Homo sapiens: one gene and its partners. The protein of the gene in region 7 purifies or fractionates together with the protein of the main gene of each other region. This does not show direct contact. Each region holds a gene or a part of one and is shown on either strand. Other genes may lie near its edges.

What was found.
Region 1: the proteins of LARP7 (region 7) and KPNA2 purify together in Homo sapiens (affinity purification with mass spectrometry; 3 studies listed by BioGRID and IntAct, with this or other methods). This does not show direct contact.
Region 2: the proteins of LARP7 (region 7) and PPM1G purify together in Homo sapiens (affinity purification with mass spectrometry; 3 studies listed by BioGRID and IntAct, with this or other methods). This does not show direct contact.
Region 3: the proteins of LARP7 (region 7) and SF3B1 purify together in Homo sapiens (affinity purification with mass spectrometry; 4 studies listed by BioGRID and IntAct, with this or other methods). This does not show direct contact.
Region 4: the proteins of LARP7 (region 7) and TUT1 purify together in Homo sapiens (affinity purification with mass spectrometry; 4 studies listed by BioGRID and IntAct, with this or other methods). This does not show direct contact.
Region 5: the proteins of LARP7 (region 7) and SRSF4 purify together in Homo sapiens (affinity purification with mass spectrometry; 3 studies listed by BioGRID and IntAct, with this or other methods). This does not show direct contact.
Region 6: the proteins of LARP7 (region 7) and FBL purify together in Homo sapiens (affinity purification with mass spectrometry; 4 studies listed by BioGRID and IntAct, with this or other methods). This does not show direct contact.

Annotation. Positions count from the first base shown.
Region 1 is NC_000017.11:68,042,235-68,045,734, reverse strand, and holds part of KPNA2 (importin subunit alpha-1), read right to left. Parts: coding exon 3,382-3,500; intron 2,831-3,381; coding exon 2,736-2,830; intron 2,636-2,735; coding exon 2,372-2,635; intron 1,898-2,371; coding exon 1,664-1,897; intron 1,415-1,663; coding exon 1,232-1,414; intron 1-1,231.
Region 2 is NC_000002.12:27,385,592-27,389,091, forward strand, and holds part of PPM1G (protein phosphatase 1G), read right to left. Parts: intron 1,568-3,500; coding exon 1,498-1,567; intron 689-1,497; coding exon 603-688; intron 289-602; coding exon 156-288; intron 1-155.
Region 3 is NC_000002.12:197,390,029-197,393,528, forward strand, and holds part of SF3B1 (splicing factor 3B subunit 1), read right to left. Parts: intron 3,161-3,500; coding exon 2,944-3,160; intron 2,434-2,943; coding exon 2,275-2,433; 3' UTR 1-2,274. UniProt on the Homo sapiens protein: Component of the 17S U2 SnRNP complex of the spliceosome, a large ribonucleoprotein complex that removes introns from transcribed pre-mRNAs.
Region 4 is NC_000011.10:62,581,524-62,585,023, forward strand, and holds part of TUT1 (speckle targeted PIP5K1A-regulated poly(A) polymerase), read right to left. Parts: intron 179-3,500; coding exon 1-178. UniProt on the Homo sapiens protein: Poly(A) polymerase that creates the 3'-poly(A) tail of specific pre-mRNAs. Localizes to nuclear speckles together with PIP5K1A and mediates polyadenylation of a select set of mRNAs, such as HMOX1.
Region 5 is NC_000001.11:29,157,901-29,161,400, forward strand, and holds part of SRSF4 (serine/arginine-rich splicing factor 4), read right to left. Parts: intron 2,896-3,500; exon of another isoform or gene 2,662-2,895; coding exon of another isoform or gene 2,618-2,661; coding exon 2,475-2,617; intron 2,111-2,474; exon of another isoform or gene 1,964-2,110; intron 1,587-1,963; coding exon 1,474-1,586; intron 1-1,473. UniProt on the Homo sapiens protein: Plays a role in alternative splice site selection during pre-mRNA splicing. Represses the splicing of MAPT/Tau exon 10.
Region 6 is NC_000019.10:39,836,380-39,839,879, reverse strand, and holds part of FBL (rRNA 2'-O-methyltransferase fibrillarin), read left to right. Parts: intron 1-674; coding exon 675-845; intron 846-2,036; coding exon 2,037-2,169; intron 2,170-3,211; coding exon 3,212-3,324; intron 3,325-3,500.
Region 7 is NC_000004.12:112,654,143-112,658,086, reverse strand, and holds the end of LARP7 (la-related protein 7), read right to left. Parts: coding exon 3,928-3,944; intron 841-3,927; coding exon 760-840; 3' UTR 501-759; downstream 1-500. UniProt on the Homo sapiens protein: RNA-binding protein that specifically binds distinct small nuclear RNA (snRNAs) and regulates their processing and function.

The DNA of each region.
Region 1 (3,500 bases), on a different chromosome or scaffold from region 7:
TCTGGTTTTATTTTAATGAAGAAAACATCAATAATTTGAATATTGATACGTCAGGCAGAAATAAGCACCTAACAATTCCTTCATCAAGCCTATCATAGTTTTATGTCCATTTTATATTTTGTTGACACTCAATGTGATTGGATCTGTACCTGCTTTTAGCACTACTTCAACTGGAGCCAAAGATCTTACAATCAGTAGTAGCTCCCAACCTTTTCTATGTATCAAAATCATGCGGGCAACTTTTAAAACAACACTACATTCCAGTTCAACTGGTCTGCTATGGGAACAGGGGTGTATTGTTTCATAAAGCATCCTATGTCATCACAAGGTGTAGTCAAGGTGTCTAAGGGCAAAGATGGCCTATGGAGTGCTAAACTAAACGTCCCCAAACAGAATGTGTGTTGGTATTAAGGATTTACTGGACATATGGAATGGTATGTAGGTTAGTTTTCCTTTAAATTTTCAACCTTAAAGAGATACATAAATATCTATAGATGAAAAAAACAGATTTGCTTCAAAATAACTTAGGGGATTAGATGAGGGGAAGAAGAAATACTGGCCACATACTGACAAATTATTTATACACAGTAACAGATACGCTAGCATCCATTATTGAAGGCTCAACTTTTTTTTTTTTTTTTTTTAAGACAGTTTCACTCTTGCCCAAGCTGGAGTGCAATAACACAAACTTGGCTCACTGCAACTTCCGCTTCCCGGGTTCAAGCGATTCTCCTGCCTCAGCCTTCTGAGTAGCTGGGATTATAGGCGCCCACCACCACACATGGCTAATTCTTGCATTTTTAGCAGAGACAGGGTTTCGCCATGTTGGCCAGGCTGGTCTCGAACTCTTGACCTCAGGTGATCCACCCACCTCGGACTTCCAAAGTGCTGTGATTACAGGCATGAGCCACCGTGCCTGGCCAAGTCATTCAAATTTAATGTCACCAAAAATCGGTATGAAATTGGGAAATTAAATCAACCAAGTAAACAGGTGTGATGAGTCCACATAAGCGCCTGACTCCGATTCAGGTCACACCATCCACTTGTCGTCTCTTTTGTATCTTTTATAATGCCTGCCTCATTTTTAATCAAAGGGGTGGCCACATAAACAGGCTTTCTGATTCTGTGGCTTACTAGTGAGTAAACTTACAGCTGCCCTCCCCCAAGTCTAAATAGTAAACTGATTATTATCAAGTCCAAATTCAAACAAAGCCACCTTGATAGGACTTACCTGAAAGATATTTGAAATGGCATCCAGGATAACCAGAATAATCTTGGTATCTTTTGCAGTTAAGAGGTTCATCAACGGTTCTATTATGCCACAGTGAACAAGGTACACAATCTGTTCAACTGTTCCACCACTGGTATAGTTGGTCACGGCCCACACAGCTTCCTTTTGTGTCTTAAAATCTGCCTATTAAACATAAGGAAATGGTTTTATTTCAGAACAGTTGCACAAATAAGATTCCAAGAGTACTTTTTCACAAAAACAATGACTGAAAGTACCAAGGTTCTATCCAACCTTAAGTAAAAGGGGTTACTGGGTATTGTTCAGCAAAGGACTCCTAGTAGAACCCAAGATTCTTGCACGTGAAGAAGCTTATCAAGCACAGCTTTCTATAAATACTAAAAATGACTTGATTAAATCCTAAGACTTCGTTACCTTAGAGAGAACACTGACAAGGAATGGGACTAATCCATGATTCACAACTTGCTGTATCTGGTCCTGGCGGCCGGCTGTGATGTTTGACATTGTCCACGTAGCTTCCTTCTGAATGTTAGTTTTGGGGTTGGTGAGCAGGCTGGGAAAGACGGCGAGTGCTCCTGCATCAATCACAACCTGAGTCTGTTCATCTGTACCAGTGACAATATTCCCTATGGCTCTTAGGGCAGGAGTCTGAAAAAAAAAAAATATGTTGATGCTGGTTATTTTTTCCCCAGCACTTTAGAAATTCTATACCCTAAAAGTTTTAACAAGAGGCCCATCATGGCCTGAAATAGGCAATATTTCAATATTACTATCAACTGATTATGCTTTTTTTTTTTTTTTTGAGAGACTGGAGTATAATGGCACGATTTCGGGTCACTGCAGCCTCTGCCTCCCAGATTCAAGCAATTCTCCTGCCTTAGCCTCCCGAGTAGTTGAGATTACAGACACGTGCCACCATGTCCAGATAATTTCTTTGTATTTTTAGTAGAGATGGGCTTTCACAATGTTGGCCAGGCTGGTCTCGAACTCCTGACCTCAGGTGATCCACCTGCCTTGGTCTCCCAAAGTGCTGGGATTACACAGGTGTGAGCCACCACTACCACGCCCAGCCCTGATCATGCTTCTTATACTTATGTCCTAATCTACAAGTAAATAACTTACCACAATTGGCAATTCAGAAGCTCCTAGAAGCTTCACAAGTTGGGGCACAACTCCTGTTTTCACCACCATGCCAATTCGTTCATTTGGACCATCAGTAAGGTAGGAAATAGCCCAGCAGGTATCTGCTAATACTTCTGGATCATCATGATGCAGGAGCCGAACTAAGGTAGGAAGAATCTGCTCAACAGCATCTATCGGGGGTGCAGGATTCTTGTTGCGGCAAAGATTAGAAAGTGTCCAGGTAAGATTACGTAAGTAGCCACACTGGGGGAAAAAAAATAGGCAATGAGAGGTTCTGTCTTTTGAGAAGATGGGGGAAATTAGAATGAAGAAGTGAGTAACTTTACTCATGTTAGTAACTTACTGCTAAAGATGACATATCAGGAACTGCAAGGAGAGCCAACAGTGGGTCAACTGCACCGTACTTAATAACCAAGTCTCGGAACACTGAGCCATCACCTGAAAAAAAAGGCAAGATTAATTTTTTTTTTTTTTTTTTTGAGACGGAGTTTCTCTCTGTCGCCCAGGCTGGAGTGCAGTGGCGCGATCTCGGCTCACTGCAAGCTCCGCCTCCTGGGTTCAAGCCATTCTCCTGCCTCAGCCTCAGGCGCCCGCCGCCACGCCCGGCTAATTTTTTGTATTTTTAGTAGAGGTGGGGTTTCACTGTGTTAGCCAGGATGGTCTCAATCTCCTGACCTCATGATCCACCCGCCTCTGCCTCCCAAAGTGCTGGGATTACAGGCGTGAGCCACCATGCCCGGCCGAGGCAAGATTAATTTTATTACCTTGTCCAACACCATCAATTTTCAGTGACTGAATGCACCAGCAAAAACTCCCAAACTTACTTAGATGGCCCTCTGCTGCCTTTGTAAAGACGACACTTTCATTCCTAATAAGGGCTTGAAAGCAAGCTCAAAACTTGACAAAGTCACTATTACTTATAACAAGGCCTTTCTTCCAACTAATTACGATTAGATACATTCAGTCAAAAGAACTTCAAGTCCAAGTACCTGCAATGTTTCCTAGAGCCCAGACAGCTTGTTCACTGATGTGAGCATGGGGAGATGCCAACAGAGAAATGAATGCTGGGATGGCACCTCCATCTACCACAGCCTTGGTTTGTTCTGAT
Region 2 (3,500 bases), on a different chromosome or scaffold from region 7:
TAACCACATACAATGCAGGAGAACATCATAGGTTTCTTTAACATAAGGACTCCCCAGGTCCCTAGAAAGCCATCCTATCTTAGAATTGATAAGTAATATTAAAGAATATTTCTTAAAATGCTGATTTCCCCTCAAACAAGGGATGCCACACTCACCATCATCTTCATCAGCTACTTTTTCTTTTTCATCTTCATCCTCAGTGGGTCGCCCTGCAATCTGTGCCAGCTCTTTAATGACTTCTTCAGTGGTCAATTTGGCGTCAATAGCCAAGAAGGCATCTTCTAAAGCCTGAATATAAGCAAAATAGTCTAAGACTAGTACAAAATGAACTCCCTATATACAATCCTGAGCACAAGGATGGAATACAAATTAAGAGTGTGAGCCACCACACTAAGAGACACTCACAGATAAAAACAGCTCAGAGGCCTAGGAATAATAAGGCAAGTCTAAAAGGCGGCCAATAAGCTCGTTTTAGGAACAGAATTCTTCAAGAGTAAATAAGCAGCAGCAGCTAGAGGACAAAAAGAAAGGAAAAGCCCAAGGGCTAGAGAACAAGGGAAAAGCCTACACAAGTGAGGAATGGGCGGTGTAAGCAGACAGACCTTCTGTAGCTTGCCTTCCTTGTAGGCCTTCTGATCTTTGATGATATCAGGAAGATATTTGGCACAGTACAAGGCAACTTCCTCCCCTAGAAGGAAAGGAAGGAAGGTCACCTGGAGCACTGCTCCCCACACATAGAAAGTGATACAATATTTATATGCCATACTGGAGTGAACCCCAAGGGTTGAGGGGATAAATATCTTAGCACCCCTGAACCCTATTTGAAGGACACTGTTTGGGGAAGTTCTGATCCAAAAAAATGGATTTCACCATCAATTCTCTCGGGTATAAATATCTCGTCTTTTCTCACCTGTATACTTAGTTCTCCAGTGAAAAAAAGATAAAGAATCAGCTCAACTGGGTACACTTTTTTGTTTTTTAAGACAAGAGTCTTGCTCTGTTGCCCAGGCTGGAGTGCAGTGGCATGGTCTTGGCTCACTGCAACCTCCACCTCCCAGGTTCAAGCGATTCTCCTGCCTCAGCCTTCCGAGCAGCTGGGACCACAGGCGCCCACCACTACGCCCAGCTAATTTTTGTATTTTTAGTAGAGATGGGGTTTCACCATATTGGTCAGGCTGGTCTCGAACTCCTGACCTCGTGATCCACTGTGCCGGGATTACAGGTGTGACCTACCGCGTGCCCAGCCTAAAAATTTTAAAAAATAAAAATAAAAAAAGATAGAGGCTCTTTGGATTAAAACAAGTCCTGGTGAGATTATAAACCAATACAGTACCTACTGGGAAAAAAGAATGACAGAATACAGAAAAACAGCACCACGCAGGAAATGATAATGAGGGCCAGACCCTGGAAAGTAAATGAACAAAGGGACCTGTTCTTGCCCTGGAACGTCTGGAATTGGGGTCCTAGAATGTTACCAATATGATCTGTTAAAGTTACCTCCATGTCCATCGTAGACAGAAAACATGGCTGTCTCACTGTCCAGCTCAGGAATACAGTTGTGAGCATCCTAGGAAAAGAAGAGCATAATCGGCATGTCTCAAGGTCGAAGAATATTCCTCAGGTCATAGGGATCAATGTCACCCCTTACTAACCTTTCCCTGGCTGGCCTATATGGCCTAGAAATAAGAAAGGAAGAAGGAATGATAAAATAAATACAGAGGAAGAAAAGAGGAGGGAGGCAAAGGAGGAAAGGGGAAGGAGAAAAGGAAGAAAGAATCAGGTTACTACCTCTATAATAACCTCAACCTAGGAGATATCTCAGTCCAGATGGCAGAATATTTGGCTACTGGAAATAAACCTGACCCTTTTGGATCTGTGGAAGCTACGGGAAAACCAGAATAAAGGATTTTTTCTTCTTTTTTTTTTTGAGACAGAGTCTCGCCCTGTCACCCAAGCTGGAGTGCAGTGGCGCGATCTTGGCTCACTGCAACCTCCGCCTCGTGGGTTCAAGCGATTCTCCTGCCTCCGCCTGCTGAATAGCTGAGATTACAGGCATGTGCCACCATGCCCGGCTAACTTTTGTATTTTTAGTAGAGATGGGGTTTCACCATGTTGGTCAGGCTGGTCTCGAACTCCTGACCTTGTGATCTGCCTGCCTCGGCCTCCCAAAGTGTTGGCCAGGCTGTACACAGCTTTATTTATTTATTTATTTATTATTATTTTTTGAGACGGAGTCTCGCTCTGTCGCCCAGCCTGGAGGGCAGTGGTGCGATCTCTGCTCACTGCAAGCTTCGCCTCCCAGGTTCACGCCATTCTCCTGCCTCAGCCTCCCAAGTAGCTGGGACTACAGGCACCCACCACCACACCCGGCTAATTTTTTGTATTTTTAGTAGAGACGGGGTTTCACCTTGTTAGCCAGAATGGTCTCGATCTCCTGATCTCGGGATCCACCCGCCTCAGTCTCCCAAAGTGCTGGGATTACATAAGTGAGCCACCGCGCCCGGCCTACAGCATTATTTATAATAAAAAACAGTTGAGGCCAGGCGTGGTGGCTCACACCTGTAATCCCAGCACTTTGGGAGGCTAAGGCCGGCAGATCATGAAGTCAAGAGATCAATACCATCCTGGCCAACATGGTGAAACCCCGTCTCTACTAAAAATACAAAAATTAGCCAGGCGTGGTGGTGTGCGCCCGTAGTCCCAGCTACTCGGAAGGGTGAGGCAGGAGAATCACTTGAACCCCGGAGGTGGAAGTTGCAGTGAGCCAAGATCACACCACTGCGCTCCAGCCTGGGTGACAGAGTCAGACTCCGTCTCTAAATAAATAAATAAATAAAATAAAAAACAGTTGTAACCATCTAAATTTCCAGGAATAGATTACAAATGGTACGTAACTCCAGTGGAAATGTAGCTGTTAAAAGCAAATATATGTTAATTTGGAAATGAGTTCACAATATCTTAAGTGGTTAAAAGCAAAAAGTTAAAAAAGTATCTACATGTGAGGACGGCCACAGTGGCTCACTCCTGTAATCCCAGCACTTTGGGAGGCCCAGGCAGGCGGATCATGAGGTCAGGAGATCGAGACCATCCTGGCTAACATGGTGAAACCCCGTCTCTACTAAAAATACAAAAAATTAGCTGGAGGTGATGGTGGGCGCCTGTAGTCCCAGCTACTTGGGAGGCTGAGGCAGGAGAATGGCGTGAACCCAGGAGGCAGAGCCTGCAGTGAGCCGAGATTGCGCCACTGCACTCCAGCCAGGGCGACAGAGCAAGACTCCGTCTCAAAAAAAAAAAAAAAAAATTATCTACATGTATATGTGAGTCTGGAAGATCACATAGCAAACAACCACAGAGGGTGAGATTTGGGTAATAATTTCTACTTTTCGACATTCATTTTTAAATTTTTGTACAATAAACCACATTGTTCCATTCTGAATAAGGACAACAAACACACCTAAGAACTGGCCTCAAGTTGCCATTCTACCATATACTGCATGATC
Region 3 (3,500 bases), on a different chromosome or scaffold from region 7:
ATAGGTAAAACTTCACATAGCGTCTTCCACATATCACAAAATGCTTTCCTTATTTAATAATAAGCACATAAAATAATCCAAATATCTGTGAGCCTCTATTTGGTCCCAATGTTTTAGGTCATAGCTTTCACTACTTCCCTCCTCTCTATCCTCAAATTATTTGCATCAGTAAAAAAAGTTAATTAAGGTGTAACAGTCTCCTTTGCTCCACAATGCCACTACAAAGCCTATTTTCCATAAAGAACCAGAGGCCAAGCAAACGTAGGCTACTAAGTACTTGAATTGAAAATACAACTAAAATTTCCTGAGTCATTTAACATCAAATTTTGGCTTTGTAATCTATTTGTATTCAATTCTCAGTCATTACTGAAGGTCATTTGACATCAACCATAGAGAGCAGTGAGATTTAAAGTTGCATGGAAGTACCGCTGAAAACTTCTAACAACAGAAAGATGAGTTTGGAGTGTTTAATTTTACTACATAGTGACATATATTCAGAAAGTTGTCATACAAGGAATGATGAGGAGTTACAAATCCAACTTGGAAACCCTTAATGCTCACTATCAATTTGTTGAAAGTCAATTTTTTTTTTTTTTTTGAGACGGAGTCTCTGTCGCCCAGGCTGGAGTGTAGCAGCGCTATCTCGGCTCACTGCAAGCTCCGCCTCCCGGGTTCAAGCCATTCTCCTGCCTCAGCCTCCCTAGTAGCTGGGACTACAGGCGCCCGCCACCACGCCTGGCTAATTTTTGTATTTTTAGTAGACGGGACTTCACCGCGTTAGCCAGGATGGTCTCGATCTCCTGACCTCGTGATCCGCCCGCCTCAGCCTCCCAAAGTGCTGGGATTACAGGCATGAGCCACCACACCCGGCCACAAGCTGTTTCTTAACTAAGCTTCTGAAGCAGGAACTCCTAAAGTGTCAATAGGCAGTTTTACTTACAGTAGTAGTTATATACTAATGCTGCTTGCAGAATTTTTTTTCCCTTTAGAGTTCACAGAAGTACTACCACATGGAGACAAAACAAAACAGTAAAAATAGTATAGGTAGTAAAAAGGCCAAAACTAAGAAATTTGGGGCCATAACATTAGAAAAGTTTGAAAATATACTTTACATATTTGCTTAAAAAATTAAGTGTAGTACTGCCTTAATGCTTGGTTCCTCTACCATTAAATGGCATTTCATTCAGTTTATGCTGAACTCTTAGATCAACTTATTATTACTGAATACAAAGCTAAGCAAACCTAGACATTTTAGCTGCTGCCACTGTGTATTATCACAGTACATAAGGAATCTGTCACAAGGTTTGTCTCCCCTTCTCCATTATACTGTTCTTAAAGGTAGAGGGCAGGTCTCATGCACCTTTGCATCCCCTGCATATAAGCACAGTGGCTGGCATACAGTGGGTGAATAGGTATTTACTGATGCATTGCTGAGTAGTGGCTTATAACATGGAGAAAAGCCCAACATTGTCCTGTTCTATCAGCATTACTTAGGTATCCTCACTCCTAATAGGCAGAAAGCAGTTTTGAAGTAAAGTTAAATTCCTCACTTGCTAAACACAGCAGACCTGTCAAGTGTTGGACAAGACTTAAACCACTTTCTTTAAATGTGTTCATAAAGCATTTTGAGAAATCAAGAGATGAAAGGCGCTATGTAAGTACAAAATATTCAAGACAGTTTAGCAAAAGTGCTACTTTTCTACGATGATGGAATGGTTGTGCTAGTTTGAGGGGAACATCCCCTGAGGCTACTCTTCTTGCTGTCATTATTAACACAACAATGGAATTTTGACAAAGATGCCATCACTTTATATAGTTTTTATTCAGCTAACTACTTTCTATAAACCATGTGACAGAAAATGAAATTAAGCCACTTATTCCACATAAACCAATACTTTATCAAAGTTCCGCATTTTACAAGTCATGTTCAAAAAACACACACAAATTAGCATTTTGTACACAAATGTTTATTTCTCAATTAAACATTCCCTTTAAACACAAGGAATGAGTTCTAAATCTTCATAAAGATGAATTAAAAATGAAATCCCTCCAGTATAGTGTATATAATCACTGTGTTCTTGGTCACTACTGGCATTTACTGTTTAACATCAAAAACAAAGACAGGTTATTTAAAAATCATGCTACTGGATTTCTAGCTCTTCCTCTATGACCAGTTCTACACTGATCTGCAATGTTTAAAAGTTTACATCACCAAATCAAAGCAAGTTTAAGGTGTGAAGTAGCTGTGCATTAAACACAAAATAAACAATAAAATTATAAGATATAGTCAAGTTCATAACGAATATAGGTGTTCTTATCATCGTTGTAGATTCTTGGGTAATGTGCTATGAGAGCGTCCTGGGAACCAATGTAGATGGAGTTGTAAATTTTCCAATATACATCTCTGACTTTCCGGGCTGGGTGAAACAGACCCTAAAATAATTGAACGGTTACATTATTTCAATTTTTAAGAACATACATAACCTTAACAAAATTAAGAAAACATAAAGATATGATTCAAAATTATTTCCCTTGGGGAGTTGGGGGGGGGGGAACCTACTAATTACACTGCTCTTAAGCTGCAATGGAAGAGACAAAACTCACTCCCCTGTCACCACACAATTGTTCTACCATATGGCACAATATACCCTAATGATAATCAGGAAAAGTAACTTAATTCAATACACTACTTTTCTTGCTAAGTAATCTTTTAAAAATCTTTAACTTACAGGCAGTGGGGGGAAAGGGGAGGGAGAGCATTAGGACAAATACCTAATGCATGCAGGGCTTAAAACCTAGATGACAGGTTGATAGGTGCAGCAAACCACCATGGCACATATATACCTATGTAACAAACCTGCACGTTCAGCACAAGTATCCCAGAACTTAAAGTATTATTTAAAAAAAAAAAATCACCGATTAAAAAAAAAATCTTTAACTTACCTGTAAACAATATTGCAACATTCTACATGGTCCAATAGCAACTCTCAGGCCCTCTAGGGCTCCCATAACTGCCTGAATTACATGAGGAGATGTCTCAAATACATTGGGCCATACATAGTTCAACAAGTGATTCAGCGAATCTTCACAACCAAATCCATAAACCCCAAGTGACATGTGCTGTACCACTGCACTAGCCGTCTGTCTGTGTACAAGGTCTCTACAACGGAAGGGAAAAAAGTCCTTTAAGATGCGGTCTTATAAGAAAGGGGGAAAAATCCTTAAAGATACAGTCTTAGTTTTACAGGAAATATTCACCGGCCCATTAGAAACTAAATTACTAATTCAGTGCACTGAATAGATGTGAAGTCATCTAACATTTCATATATCTAATATATCCTTTAGAATAGCTTCCACTTGAGGACTTTTGCTTTAATTACTCAAGATTCACTATGGCTCAACAATTAAGCCATATTTTCTAATTAACTTTTTTTTTTTTTTTGAGACGGAGTCTTACTCTGTCACCCAGACTGGAGTGCAGTGGTGTGATCTTGGCTCAC
Region 4 (3,500 bases), on a different chromosome or scaffold from region 7:
TGGCCAGCTGGTGACTGTCGGGGGCCGCTCCTTTGGGGGATTTGGAGGCCGGGCTCTGGAACTCCTTCTGCTCCCGTGGGCGGACACGCAGGCGATGTCCTCCCAGGCTGTGCTGGGACTGTGACAAGACAGCCTCTCGAGCACCCACGTCCCCCATCTCCACAATGGCAAACACTCCCTGGTAAACAACAGGGGCAGAGATGATGATTTTGGAACCAAGAATCTAAGCACGAGATCTACAGTGGATGAGAATATTTGAAATGGAGACTATCCCATAAATTGAGAATATTTGCTTGCTGTTTTCATAATAACAGGGGACATATCTAGAAAAGCAATTTTCAGCCAGGTGCAGTGACTCATGCCTGTAATCCCAGCACTTTGGGAGGCTGAGGCAGGAGAACTGCTTGAGCCCAGGAGTTGGAGACCAACCAGGGCAACATAGTGAGATCCCATCTCTACAAACAATTTTTTTTTTTTGAGATGGAGTCTTACTCTGTCACCCAGGCTGGAGTGCAGCGGGGTGATCTCGGCTTACTGCAACCTCTGCCTCCCAGGTTCCAGCGATTCTCCTGCCTCAGTCTCCCTAGTAGCTGGGATTACAGGCACATGCCACCATGCCCAGCTAATTTTTGTATTTTCAGTAAAAATGGGGTTTCACCATGTTGGCCAGGCTGGTCTCTAATTCCTAAACTCCTAAACTCGGCCTCCTAAAGTGCTGGGATTACAGGTGTGAGCCACTGCACCTGGCCAGTACAATTTTTTTAAATTAGCCAGGTAATCCCAGCTACTGGAGAGGAAGAGATGGGAGGATTGCTTGAGCCCGGGGGCTGAGATTGCAATGAGCCGAGATCGCACCACTGCACTCCAGTCTGGGTGACACAACCACACCCTGTCTCAAAAAAAAAAAGAAAAGAAAAAGAAAATTAGCCAGGCATGGCAGCACACACCTGTAGTTCCAATTACTTGGGAGGCTATGATAAGAGCATCACTTGGGCCCAGGATGTTGAGGCTGCAGTGAGCTGTGATTGTGATTGCACCACTACACACCAGCCTGAGAGACAGCGAGACCCTGTCTCAAAAAAAAGTAGAAAAACAATTCTTTCCCTCACTCCTATTCCAAACATTTTACTCTCACCCCAGTCTGCCTCTAAAAACCTCATTTTATCTACATTATTTGTCCCCTACTCTTCCCAATGATGTGATTACACTATGACCCACCCTATAACTTTTCCTGATATAATTAGAATTTTTTTAAACATTTATTAAGGATCCATGTAACAGAATGAGTCCACTTTAAAAATCTTTTAAAAAATCAATTCATGCAGCTGGGTGCAGTGGCTCACGCCTGTAATCCCAGCACTTTAGGAGGCCGAGGTGGGTGGATCACGAGGTCAGGAGATAGAGACCATCCTGGCTAACATGGTGAAACCCCGTCTCTACTAAAAATACAAAAAATTAGCCAGGCGTGGTGGTGGGCGCCTGTAGTCCCAGCTACTAGGGAGGCTAAGGCAGGAGAATGGCATGAACCCAGGAGGCGGAGCTTGCAGTGAGCTGAGATGGCGCCACTGCACTCCAGCCTGGGCGACAGTGGGAGACTCTGTCTCCAAAAAAAAAAAAAAAAAAAAATCAATTCATGTAATAAACACTGTGCGAGGCATAAATACAAACTCATAAACCCTGTCTTCAAGAACTCACTATCTAGGAATAACAGCAATATAACAACTATATTGTTGTAAGTTGGTGAGTTCAATGATATTCACTGGCCATATTTTTTTAAAGGTAAAATATTAGCAAGAAGAGGAAAAACGCCGGGCGCAGTAGCTCACGCCTAATCTCAACACTTTGGGAGGCCTAGGCGGGTGGATCACTTGAGGTCAGGAGTTCAAAACCAGCCTGACCAACATGGCAAAACCCCATCTCCACTAAAAATACAAAATTAGCCAGATATGGTGGTGCATGCCTGTAATCCCAGCTACTCAGGAGGCAATTGCTTGAACCCGGGAGGCGGAGGTTACTGTGAGCCGAGATTGTGCATTGTACTCCAGTCTGTCCAGTCTGGACAACAAGAGCGAATCTCCGTCTCAAAAAGAAAAAAAAAGAAGAGGAAAAACAGGACTGCTTTAGGCAAAAAAGTCCATATTCTTTTATATCCTCCAATGGTAAAGCTGGACCCTCATCTTGTTTATAAAAAGGTTCCTGCTAGAGTAAGGTAGCACCAAGACAGAGTGGTGCTAGCATAAAGATAGACATTCAGATGAAGGGAATGGAATTGAGACCCTGAAAGAAATTCACACATCTTTGGTCAACTGATTTTGAACAACGGTGTCAAGAAGATTCAATGGGGAAAGAACAGTCTTGTCAACAAATTGTGCTGGGACAACTGGATAGCCACATGCAAAACAATGATGTTGAACCTTTACCTCACACCATACATAACAATTAACTCAACCAGGAGGATGGCTTCACCAGTACACAGGCCTAAATCACAAATGGGAAGTAACCAAGAAAGGATAAGGCGTTTCTTTTTGGAGTGGTGAAAACATTCTGGAATCAGTCATGAGGGTTGAAGAACCCTGTGAATATACTAACACTCACTGAATTGTATTTTTTTTTTTTTTTTTTTGAGACAGAGTGTCTCTGTCACTCAGACTTGAGTACAGTGGCACACTCTCGGCTCATTATTACCTCTGCCTCCCGGGGTTCAAGCAATTATCCTACCTCAGCCTCCCTAGTAGCTGGAATCAAAGACACGCACCACTACACCTGGCTAATTTTTGTATTTTTAATAGAGATGTGGTTTCACCACATTAGCCAGGCTGGTCTCAAACTCCTGATCTCAAGTGATCCTCCCACCTCGGCCTCCCAGAGGGCTGGGATTACAGGTATCAGCCACCACACCCACCCCTAAATTGTATACTTTTTTTTTTTTTTTTTTTGAGATGGAGTTTCGTTCTGTCACCCAGGCTGGAGTGCAGTGGCACGATCTTGGCTCACAGCAACCTCTGCCTCCCAGGTTCAAGTGATTCTCCTGCTTTCTGCCTCCCGAGTAGCTAGGATTATAGGTGCCCACCACCACACCCAGGTAATTTTTTGTATTTTTAGTAGAGATGGGGTTTCACCATGTTGGCCAGGCTGGTCTCCAACTCCTAACCTTAGGTGATCCACCTGCCTCGGCCTCCCAAAGTGCTGGGATTACAGGCCATGAGCCACCATGCCCAGCCAATTGTATACTTTTTGTTTGTTTATTTTTTTACCCAATAGTAAATAACCAACCAATGAATTGTATACTATTTATTTTATTTTACTTTTTTTTTTTGAGAAGGAGTCTCGCTCTGTTGCCCAGGCTGGAGTGCAGTGGCACGATCTCGGCTCACTCCAACCTCCGCCTCTCGGGTTCAAGCAATTCTCCTGCCTCAGTCTCCTGAATAGCTGGGATTACAGGAATCTGCCACTACGCCCAGCTAATTTTTTTGTATTTTTAGTAGAGACGGTTTCACCAT
Region 5 (3,500 bases), on a different chromosome or scaffold from region 7:
GGCTCACGCCTGTAATCCCAGCACTTTAGGAGGCCAAGGCAGGTGGATCACTTGTGGTCAGGAGGAGCTCGAGACCAGCCTGGTCAACATGGTGAAACCCCGCCTCTACTAAAATACAAAAATTGGCCGGGCATGGTGGCATGCACTTGTAATCCCAGTTACTCAGAGGGCTGAGGCAGAACTACTTGAACCCCAGAGGCGGAGGTTGCAGTGAGCTGAGATGGCGCCACTGCACTCCAGCCTAGGCGAAAGGGCGAGACTCCATCTCAAAAAAAAAAAAAAGCTGGAACCAGTACACTGGATGGCCAACATTAGCACTGAATCTTAATTCTTGACACCAAACCTCTTTCAGGACAAATATTCCATCAAAAACCTTATGAAAAAACATGGGTCAGATTGTCAATTTCACCAGTAAGGATACACACTGAAGCTGATGTGAATTTGCATGTTATAGCAAATGCTGCAGGAAACACTGATGGTTTCAACCATTTTATTGACTGGTGAGTAGCTACACTGCCATCTTCTTGTAACCCTTTTTTTTTTTTTTGAGACAGAGTCCTGCTCTACTGCCCAGGCTGGAGTGCAGTGGCATGATTTTGGCTCACTACAACCTCCACCTTCCAGGTTCAAGCAATTCTCTTGCCTCAGCCTCCCAAGTAGCTGGGACTACAGGTGCCCACCACCACGCCCGGCTAATTTTTGTATCTTTTTAAGTAGAGACAGGGTTTCAAACATTCTTTACAGAGAGAAATTTCGTTATCACACATTTGGGCCAGGTTTCTGTCATGTCAGCACTTGAGGAGGCTGAGACTGAAGGATCACTTGAGGCCAGGAGTTCGAGACCAGTCGGGGTAACATAGTGACAACCAATCTCTGAGCCATGATTGTGCCTCTGCACTCCAGCCTAGGCAACAGAGACTCTGTAACAAAACAAAATCAGGCCGGGCGCGGTGGCTCACGCCTGTAATCCCAGCACTTTGGGAGGCTGAGGCGGGTGGATCACAAGGTCAGGAGTTCAAGATGGTGAAACCTCGTCTCTACTAAAAATACAAAAAAATTACCCGGGCATGGTGGCGGGTGCCTGTAATCCCAGCTACTCAGGAAGCTGAGATGGAGAATTGCTTGAACCCGGGAGGCGGAGGCTGCAGTGAGCAGAGATGGTGCCACTGCACTCCAGCCTGGGCAACACAGCGAGACTCCATCTCAAACAAACCAAACCAAACCAAACCAAACCAAACCAAACCAAACCAAACTCACAAATGTGTCCTTAGAATGATGGTCCCACAATGTATAGCAGGAATATAATTCTGATATATTTTGTACTCATATGGCACTTTAATTATTTCCAGCTCTGTGCAGGCTTTCAAACATATAACACTGTATTTTGTGTATGCCTGGGCCTGCACAAATCTACCTGTTTCCCAACTTTAACTCCTGCCCAACCTTACCCCAAAAGGTTAATGGGGCCCAAACCTTTAGGTCTTGCCAGCTGCACCGACTTGACAAATTCTCCACAATAAGTCTGTACTCTGTGCGAGTAGGAGGGCCATATTTATCTCGGCCACTTCTTCTATAACCATATCCACCTTTGGAAGGTTCAAATAAATAAGATTATTTCAGTGGAAGAAAAGGAAAAAAAATGACACAGCACACACCCCCCCTTAAATATATTATTTACCCCCACCCCAAACAATAGCACGTTTTAACTCTATTCCCACCCTTAATTCTAAAATAGATTTTTAAAGAAGCAATCAGCTAAATATAAACATTTAATTTAAAAAGTTGTAAGTATACATATTCATTAATATTTGCATTTAAGATTAACATGCATAAATTTAAAACTATTAACAATTTAACAATTTAGAAATAAGTAACCAAATTACTAAATCAGTTACTGGTGTTACTCACAGTGATTAAACATTTTGTGAATATTTTATATGGAAAAAAAAAGATTTTCAGGCACCTATTTCAGTTTAATCTCATCTGTGTCTAACCCTTGGGATCCTCACCACCCAGGTCTAATGGGGAAAGGTTGCGGTCGTCACATGGCTTCCTGTTTTTGGTCAGCCAAGGGCCACAATGGTTCAAAGAGCCACGCATGGAAAGGTAACCCAAGGTCAGCAAATGGAACAGGCAGTCATCTTAGCCTCAAAGGATTCTTTTAATTAAAACATTGAGGTCTTTGTTAAATCTATGTTAAACAATTGCATTACAGAGAAAAAAACAACAACAACACAAACACACATCATTAAACATATTTATAAAGTATTATAAACAAGAAATTGTCATTAGTTTAATTAAAATTAAACATTATCAAAGGCTTATTTGTAATTCTACATTTTTAAAAAAGATACATAATTTACAAAATAGCTTAAACATCAATACGTTTAAATGTAATATCAATTAATTACTTTAAAAATTAGCATGATAACAAAAGCACGTTACTGATAAAAGTATGCCCTTTGAATGCTTACTGCGTCCAGAACCGTAACTGCCATCTCGCCGTGGGCCGCGGGCATGCTCAACAATTACTCGCTCACCACAAAGGTCTTTGCCATTCAGTTCATAAACAGCATCATCTGCATCACGCAGATCATCAAACTCCACAAAACCATATCTAGAAGAGAGCAAAGAAAATACTGGTTGGTACCATTTTGACATCCAGCTTCACTAACATTAAAGAGAAAGCAATGAGGTTCATGCTTAGCAAAGGTTAGGTGGATTTTGCAAACTAAGGATCAACTTTGTCTTCTCTTCAGGTGAAACCACTTTGCTTTGTGCCAACAGGCACTGAAAGAGGTAGGGAGACTTCTCAAAGTAGACTCCTATCTTTCTAGGAGGAGGCTGGCTACATACACAGGACACTTCTTTTGTTTCCCAAGTAGTTGGTGGCAACTGCAAAGACAGGGATGCTTGGTATAAGAATCCAAAATATATAATGCTACAAGACATATAACGCTCTTTCAAACACCACATAAAACTCATCTTTTTTAGCTTTAAAAGTGGTATCTTAGAGAACAATTAGACCTACATTCAGGCACTGTGTAATAACTGTTGAATCATGTGAAAGTAAAAAACTTTTTTTTAAGGTTCCTGTTCCTCTACGTAAACACATCTGTCACATGTGATTATCAGTGAAAAAAAGACTGGAGCTGTTTACTTCCCTGTGAGATTCCAAATTCATTTCCATGAAGTTTTAGAATAGGATGGAATTCTCTGAAATCTGTATACAACTCGTGCAAACTTCTTTAAATGGTATTGCTACATCTTTTCCAGCCAAGAGGTTTGGTGGCTTAACATATAACCAAAAGAACCCCCACCATCCTACTAATGCCTATTAAAGAGTACAATTTATATAGCTAAAGTGCAAAATTTGTAAGATACTTATAAGCAAGGTTATACAAATGCCCTGTAAATTATGTTTTCAAGAAATATTTAGTTTGGTCTGACACAGCTGTGAAAAGTCCAGCTTTGTGACCATTGCCTATATTTAAAAACCA
Region 6 (3,500 bases), on a different chromosome or scaffold from region 7:
GCTGCGTCACACCACTCTGCGGGTCAAGGCATCCCTCACCGCCCTCCCCTGTCCTGTTATCCTGTGTCATTTTCTTTGAGGCCAGGGTGTGCCTGCCTTGGGGCCTTCCTAATCGCTCTCCCTCTCGTGGGAATGTCCTTCCTCAGATAACTTGAATGGCCCCTTGCCTCCTTCAGGTCTGATTTGGAATCTGCCTTTCAGCCCCTCCCTGGCCCCTTTTCCCATTTTCACCTGCTCCTTGCCCTGCTTCCCAAACTCCGTATCTTCTCTCCTGGCTTTGTCTTCTCTCCTTAACACCTGTCACCATCTCATATGCCATGTTGTATTTAGTTAGTTCGGTGAATACTTACACCTTCTGGGCAGGGATCCTTGTTTTGTATCCCCAGCGCCTAGAGCAGGGTCTGGCACACAGTAGGTGCTGGCACAGTGCATGTTTGTTGAACAAGTGCTGGTTTTACTGTTACTGTTTGTGTTTATTCTCTTTTGCTGCCCTTTGGGTCAGTCACCTCCATGAGAGGGCAGCGACTGCATGTGCATGGTCACTGCTCTTTACTCATGTTGAGTTCTTGTGCAGTGATAGGACAGCCCAGTTCCTTTCAAGGCTCCTAGGGTTAAAGGCAGTGAGGTCCTGCAGAAGAGCCTAGCACTGACTTCTGTCCCCATCTCTCATCTAGGAAGGAGATGACAAAATTGAGTACCGAGCCTGGAACCCCTTCCGCTCCAAGCTAGCAGCAGCAATCCTGGGTGGTGTGGACCAGATCCACATCAAACCGGGGGCTAAGGTTCTCTACCTCGGGGCTGCCTCGGGCACCACGGTCTCCCATGTCTCTGACATCGTTGGTCCGGTGAGTGAGTAGATGGAGAGTCAGGCAGGAGGTAAAGGCTGCCTCCCTTCTGCCAACCTGGAATATCAGGGTTTGACTGCTTGCCTGCGCTGTGTGACTTAGGGCCAGGCCCTTTTCTGTCACTGTGCCTGTGAGTAAAAGGAGTGGCTTGAACCAGATAATGTCATTCAACCTCACTCCTGGGTTCTTGGCCTCAAGGGAAGAGACGTGGGTGTGGGGTGACCAACCTTAGAGAGACAACGGGGAGTATAGATACCAGACTATTTGATTTGATGGGCCTCTTTAAAATTTTATGCTGCTAAAACCTGCTCTTCTGGTTTCTTTAGAAAGAACCAGGAGATCTTCATGGTTTCTGAGCCTGTATAGGCTTCCCATTTAGAGGGCCCCTGGCACCCACGTGTCCCACTCTGTTACCCTTTGTTACTTTATGTGTTTATAAGCTGTTAAGTGTAGTGCCTTAAAACCTCAGGCTTTGGCCAGACGAGGTGGCTCATGCCTTTAATCTCAACACTTTCGGAGGCCGAGGCAGGTGGATCACCTGAGGTCAGGAGTTCGAGACCAGCCTGACCAATATGGTAAAACCCCATCTCTACTAAAAATACAAAAATTAGCTGGGTGTGGTGACGTGTGCCTGTAGTCCCACCTACTTGGGAGGCTGAGACAGGAGAATTGCTTGAACCCAGGAGGCGGACGTTGCACTAAGCTGAGATCGCACAACTGCACTCCATCCTGGGCAACAGAGTGAGACTCAAAAAAAAAAAAAAAAAAAACCTCAGGCTTTAATCAGGCAAGTTACCTAACCCATCCAAGCCTCAGTTTACCTGTCTGGAACATAGACTTGTGAAGATTAAATGAGTTAATTTCTGAAAGGTGCTTAGAGCAGTGGTTGGCCCATTGTTACATCATCTCTGTGCCTTGGCTTCCTGGTTTTAAGCCTCTGTTGGGAACCTGGGCTCTCAGGCAGATGGGATTGGGTACTTTTGCTACTTGCTGAATAACTCTTGGCCAGTGACTTTATGTCTGGACCTCAGTTTATTCATGTGAAAAATGGACATGATAGCAATAGTCATTAGATGGTAGGGTTTTGATTTGGGGGTTGGAAGAGATGCTGTGTATAGTGTATGGGCCTAAAGTAGGCACTCCATGCATGAGAACTAGCATCACTGTTCATTAATTTTTAATTTATTTTAGGATGGTCTAGTCTATGCAGTCGAGTTCTCCCACCGCTCTGGCCGTGACCTCATTAACTTGGCCAAGAAGAGGACCAACATCATTCCTGTGATCGAGGATGCTCGACACCCACACAAATACCGCATGCTCATCGGTGAGGGGTCTGGGGGTGGCCCCGGTGGGGTAGGACAGGCCACCGCAGGCTTCTGGAAGAAGCCAGTGGATCTCTGATTCGGATGGAGTTGGAGTGGATGAGCAGACCTCTTGAGTCTGCAGGAATAGAAAGGGGTAAGGGGAGCTAGGTGAGGTTGTGGAGGTGGCAGCTTGGCTTCAGAGTCTTGGAAGCCACCCTTGGAGGGCCAACCTCTTCTCCTTCAGTCTCCTCCCCATCTCCTAGGTCTCCTGTACTTCCTGCCTCTTGTATTTATTACACTACCCCTCCATAAAAAGCCTCCTTTTGGGGGTCCTAATCATTGTCTGGTGAGAGCATATCCCAGAAAACTAAGCATGGCTTGATCTGGAGGGGCCCACTGTGAATATTAATTACTTTGTTTAAAAAAACATTCAAAGATATAATATAAAAGTTGAAAAGCCTTATAAACCACCGCCAGAAGTAACTGATGAGAACAATTTGATGTCTGCTTTTCCCAGGTTTTAAATAATCAGTTTTCATTATACCACCTTTTCATTTTTTGAAAAGTCACACTGGCTTAAAAACATTATTTTTCATTCTGCTCCTTTTTCTTTCTGTGTTTTATTTTTCCCATGCACTCATACCATCCCCTTTGTTCTGCAACTTGTTTTCATTTCACAGTCCTGCGGACACTCTTGCCTATAAGTGCTCACTCACTCTTACTTGTCTTTTTGATGACGTGTCTGTCTCCCCACCAGACCTGGGAGCGTCTCGAGGGCAGGGTCCGGGTCTGACTCGTCTCTATGTCCCCCACGCCCGGCCCAGGGCTGGCCACAGAGTAGGTGGCAACCATGGTTTACAAGAAGAGTGGATGAATGATGTGACTGTGGGTTTTGGACTCATCTTGGGACACTGGAGGGAGGGGGACCAGTGGAGGTGGGGAGTGAAACTGGAGGCAGGGAGAATCTCCCAGGAACCTGCTGGTGATGGGCATAGGCCCCATGGGAGGATCTGGGGTGATCCCTGTGACTCCAACTTTTAACTGCTGCTCCTTTCTCCTTAGCAATGGTGGATGTGATCTTTGCTGATGTGGCCCAGCCAGACCAGACCCGGATTGTGGCCCTGAATGCCCACACCTTCCTGCGTAATGGAGGACACTTTGTGATTTCCATTAAGGTGCGGGGTTTGGAAGAGTCTAAGATGGGGTGGCAGTGTTCTAGGGAGGTATCTTCTCTATCTGTATCTGTCAAATAGCCACCCAAAACAGAGGGGCCAAGTCTGCAAAACTATAGCTTTGGATTTAAAGAGGCAGGAGAGTGCAGCGGTCAAGTGCAAAATTGAGTCTGACCATC
Region 7 (3,944 bases):
TTTGATAAGAGATTAAGATGACAGTCCTGTATGGACCCAGTTAAGTTCAATTCTGGGAAGGCTTTAAATGCTTCACTCCCATGATTTTCCTGAATAAAATAACAGAGCTCAGTTCTGCCTAAGGTTGATTCCTCTATTTTTTCCTTCTTGTGCTAATAGCACCTAATACATTTTATTTTGTCTAACCAAAACAAAACATTTAACTTGATTTATGAAGAAACTCAATTCTTTTAAAAATTTAACATTTTAATTAGAACCAATCCCTATGGTCTATTGTTCAATGGAAGCTCAGATAGGCAAAGTGGAATGAATAGAATGAACTATTAAACATGTCTGTATAAATCAACATGAAAAGGTATTGAAGGTATTGCAAGTTACAAACTAAGTACAGTGAGAGTTTAGTGTTAAACATTTCTCTAAACTTTATATATATTCATGTAGTATTTTTGCAATTATGTTTTGTTTTTACAGTATAAAAACAAAATCAACACATTTCCAAATAATGTTCAAAACACATTTATTTACTAAATCACCTGACACTGACATCTAAGATAATTTCAACAAATAAAATGTTTAAGAAAAATTGTGGTATACATCATATTTGTCTCTAGAAAAAAGTCTTATTTACAAGTTGAGGAACAAAGATATTTCTTTTAATTAAAAACACATTAATTATGCAGTGCTACCATAATAAAAGTGAATCTCCCAAGAACAGCTCAAGTATCTTGTGAAGTATTAAGAGGTGAACTGTTTTTTTTTTCAATCATATTCAGAAAATCTTATATGTTTACTCGCTTGTTGAGTCTTTGCCAGTCTAATCTTTTCAGCTTTGGTGATTAACTAAAGAGAAATAAATCAAAAATTAAAATGTATTGGATACTCAAAACACACACACACACACACACACACACACACAAAACTATGACTAGAAAAAATTTCACAGCTATCAGCTTAAATGGAAATTTTTTAAAAACAGCGAGAAGATGACAAATGAGATAATTATGCTCAGGTCAAATCAATTACAAATCAAATCTGTTATTAAGGCTATTTACTATTTCCTATTTCTTACACCCTTACATAAATTGTTGAATATTTTTAAGGAAGGCAAATGAAATTACACAGAATAAAAAAGAAAACTGTTTAAAATGTCTAAAATATTCCAAAAGCTTCCTTGAGAAAAAAAAGTTAAAATATTAAACTTTGGAGTAAATGCAAATCTTTTTCTCTAAAAAATATAGATTCTAATGAGTATTCATTTAAATAGTTTTAAAGTGTTTGGTACCATATGGCAATTGGAAGGAATTCACTTTTAGATTAAACTAAAAGCCTATTATTCATCATTGAGGTGAATTAAAATCCAAAGATGTTTAGAACTCTATCATACCCATGCTGCTGTTCACAAATTTTATAAATTCTGCCTTTACCTGCTGAGTATCAGTAATTTTTACAGAAAAGAATTCAAATGTTTTAAAAGCCAAAGAGAAATAAGCTTCATTCTGTCTCTAGTAGCTGTTATCTATTTTTACCAATGTGTTCAAAATCATAGGGCATACTACAAAGATTTAGGCTAGCAAAATGAATAGGAGACATCCCTTTTGGCAGACCTTTCCTTCATCTTCTTGATCTTTTGTGATACATCACTAATTTAATTTACTTGTGTTTAATATATTATTTTAGTTTCGTTTTTTTGAGACAGAGTCTTGCTCTGTTGCCCAGGCTGTGGTGCAGTGGCGCCATCTTGGCTCACTGCAACCTCCACTTCCTAGGTTCAGGCAATTCTCTTGCCTCAGCCTCCCCAGTAGCTGGGATTACATGTGCGTGCCAGCTGGCTAATTTTTGTATTTTTAGTAGACAGGGTTTCAATATGTTGGCCGGGCTGGTCTCCAACTCCTGACCTCAAGTGATCCACCAGCCTCAGCCTCCTAAAGTGCTGGGATTATAGGCATGAGCCACCGTGCCTGGCCCCATAATGTGAATATTAAGAGCCAGAATTTTTTTACTTTTACTCAATTATGGGCCAAATACAACACTATTGTAGAAATATTGGGCTGTCAGGTCAGTAAGGTATTTATGTAACCTTTTGGCAGATTCACTGATGTTCTACTAGTTTTTTTTCTAAGCAATTTCCATTACTTACTAAGATGCTCCTAGTACTCCAACTACACTGGTCTTCTAGTCCCTGACAGTCTTCCCTTCCGGTCTCTGCATTTTCTTTGCTTCTGCCTGAAAAGCTATACTTCTAAACTTTACTGGGGCTTACTCGCTCACTTCCTTATGGGTCTTGGCTGTAACATAACCTTTGCAGAGAGTTTTCCAGACAACCTCAGCTGTTACAATGCTCTCCTGCAATACACTTTATTTTTCTGTCTAGCACTGGTCATCACCTAAACTATATTGTTTATCTGTTAGCTTCATGAAAGTAGGGGACTTTGTGATTCATGGCTTTACCCCAGGTTCCAAGAATGGTGCCTAACACAAGGCACTCAAAAATCATTAGCTGAATTAACTAGCAAACAAGTTGGCTAAACTAATTATGGTCTACTCCTTTTTTCCAACAAGCTTTGCACAGCACTTACTTTCTGTGTTAACCTCCGTTTCATTTCACGACAAGAGTCAACTGGCTACTTCCATAGCTACTTAACAAATTGCGTTAACGACAATCCTGACGTCATAACTGAGTTGTGTTCCAACTCAATTTAAGAACTTCCTAGTCAAAGATGAGCTCTAAATTTTTAAAATGAAAAATAAAAGGTTTATTCCTAGTTTTAAAAATATATAAAATCTAAATGAAATTTCACACCAATTAGAAGGGTATTATTTAACAAAGTGACTTCACTTCAGTTACCAGTTCTGGATTAGTGATTTTAACATTTGAATAATCTCAAACTGGCTTTGAAATTAACACCTCATATCCCTGAAAGAATCCTTGGGAAGCACAGGAGGCTTCCCCACCACAGCAAGTTCAGTCTCCTTTCAAGGAAACAAAATTCACACCTCCCCACAAATCACGATAAATTCTGGGCAATGGTAGAAGAAGGTTGATGAAAAACACTTGCTTTTTAAGTTAGTTTTTTTTTTTTTTTGTATAAATATGACCCCAAATCAACAAGCTTAGATTACAGGAAATAGGACTTTTAACTTGCTCACCTAACAAAAAAGGAAGTTCATCTTTTTCATTTTTCTTACACTTTTATAATATGCATTTCTAAATTTTGATGACTGTAGTTAATATTAGGTATTATGTACCCTACTTTGTTCCAGGCACTTTTAAAATGTACTAACCTTTACATGTATAATAATTTGTTTTAAAACTTTAAGAGACAGGGTCTTGCTATGTTGCCTAAGCTGGAAAGCAGTGGCTATTCCCAGGTGTGATTCCACTACTGATCAGACCAGTATCATTTTAAGTGACAGAAAAATAAAATTACTGAAAGAGGGGCTTGCTTTAAATTATTTAAGCTTGTTTGTATTACCTACTATCTTAGAGAAAGAGGAATAAAGCTTATCGTTGCTATAGGAAACACTATGCATAAAGTCTCTCCATCTTATCTATGGAGCCTCCTATCTTTATAAACTACATTCTGAATACATTGTGTTTTTACCATGAAGATAATCTTTCTATAATCATTTATCACCAAACTACAAGACATAGCAGCCAGATATCAAGACTGTTAAAGTATATCACTGGTTAAAAAGAAAAAATCTAAATTAAAATTATGTATCCTTGTGAGAAAAATAATTCAATTTCATACATTTTGAAATCTAGAGAAATGACTTTTCCCTCCCAACCTAAAACATAGTATATACTCAGTAAATTTTTGTTAGGTAATAGCAAAACTACGATCATTTTATGACTACCTAGTACTGACTTTGGCATTAAACGTTCAAGGAAAGTTTAGTCTAAAAAAACAAAAATGAATCAATTACCTTTTCAGTGCCTCTTT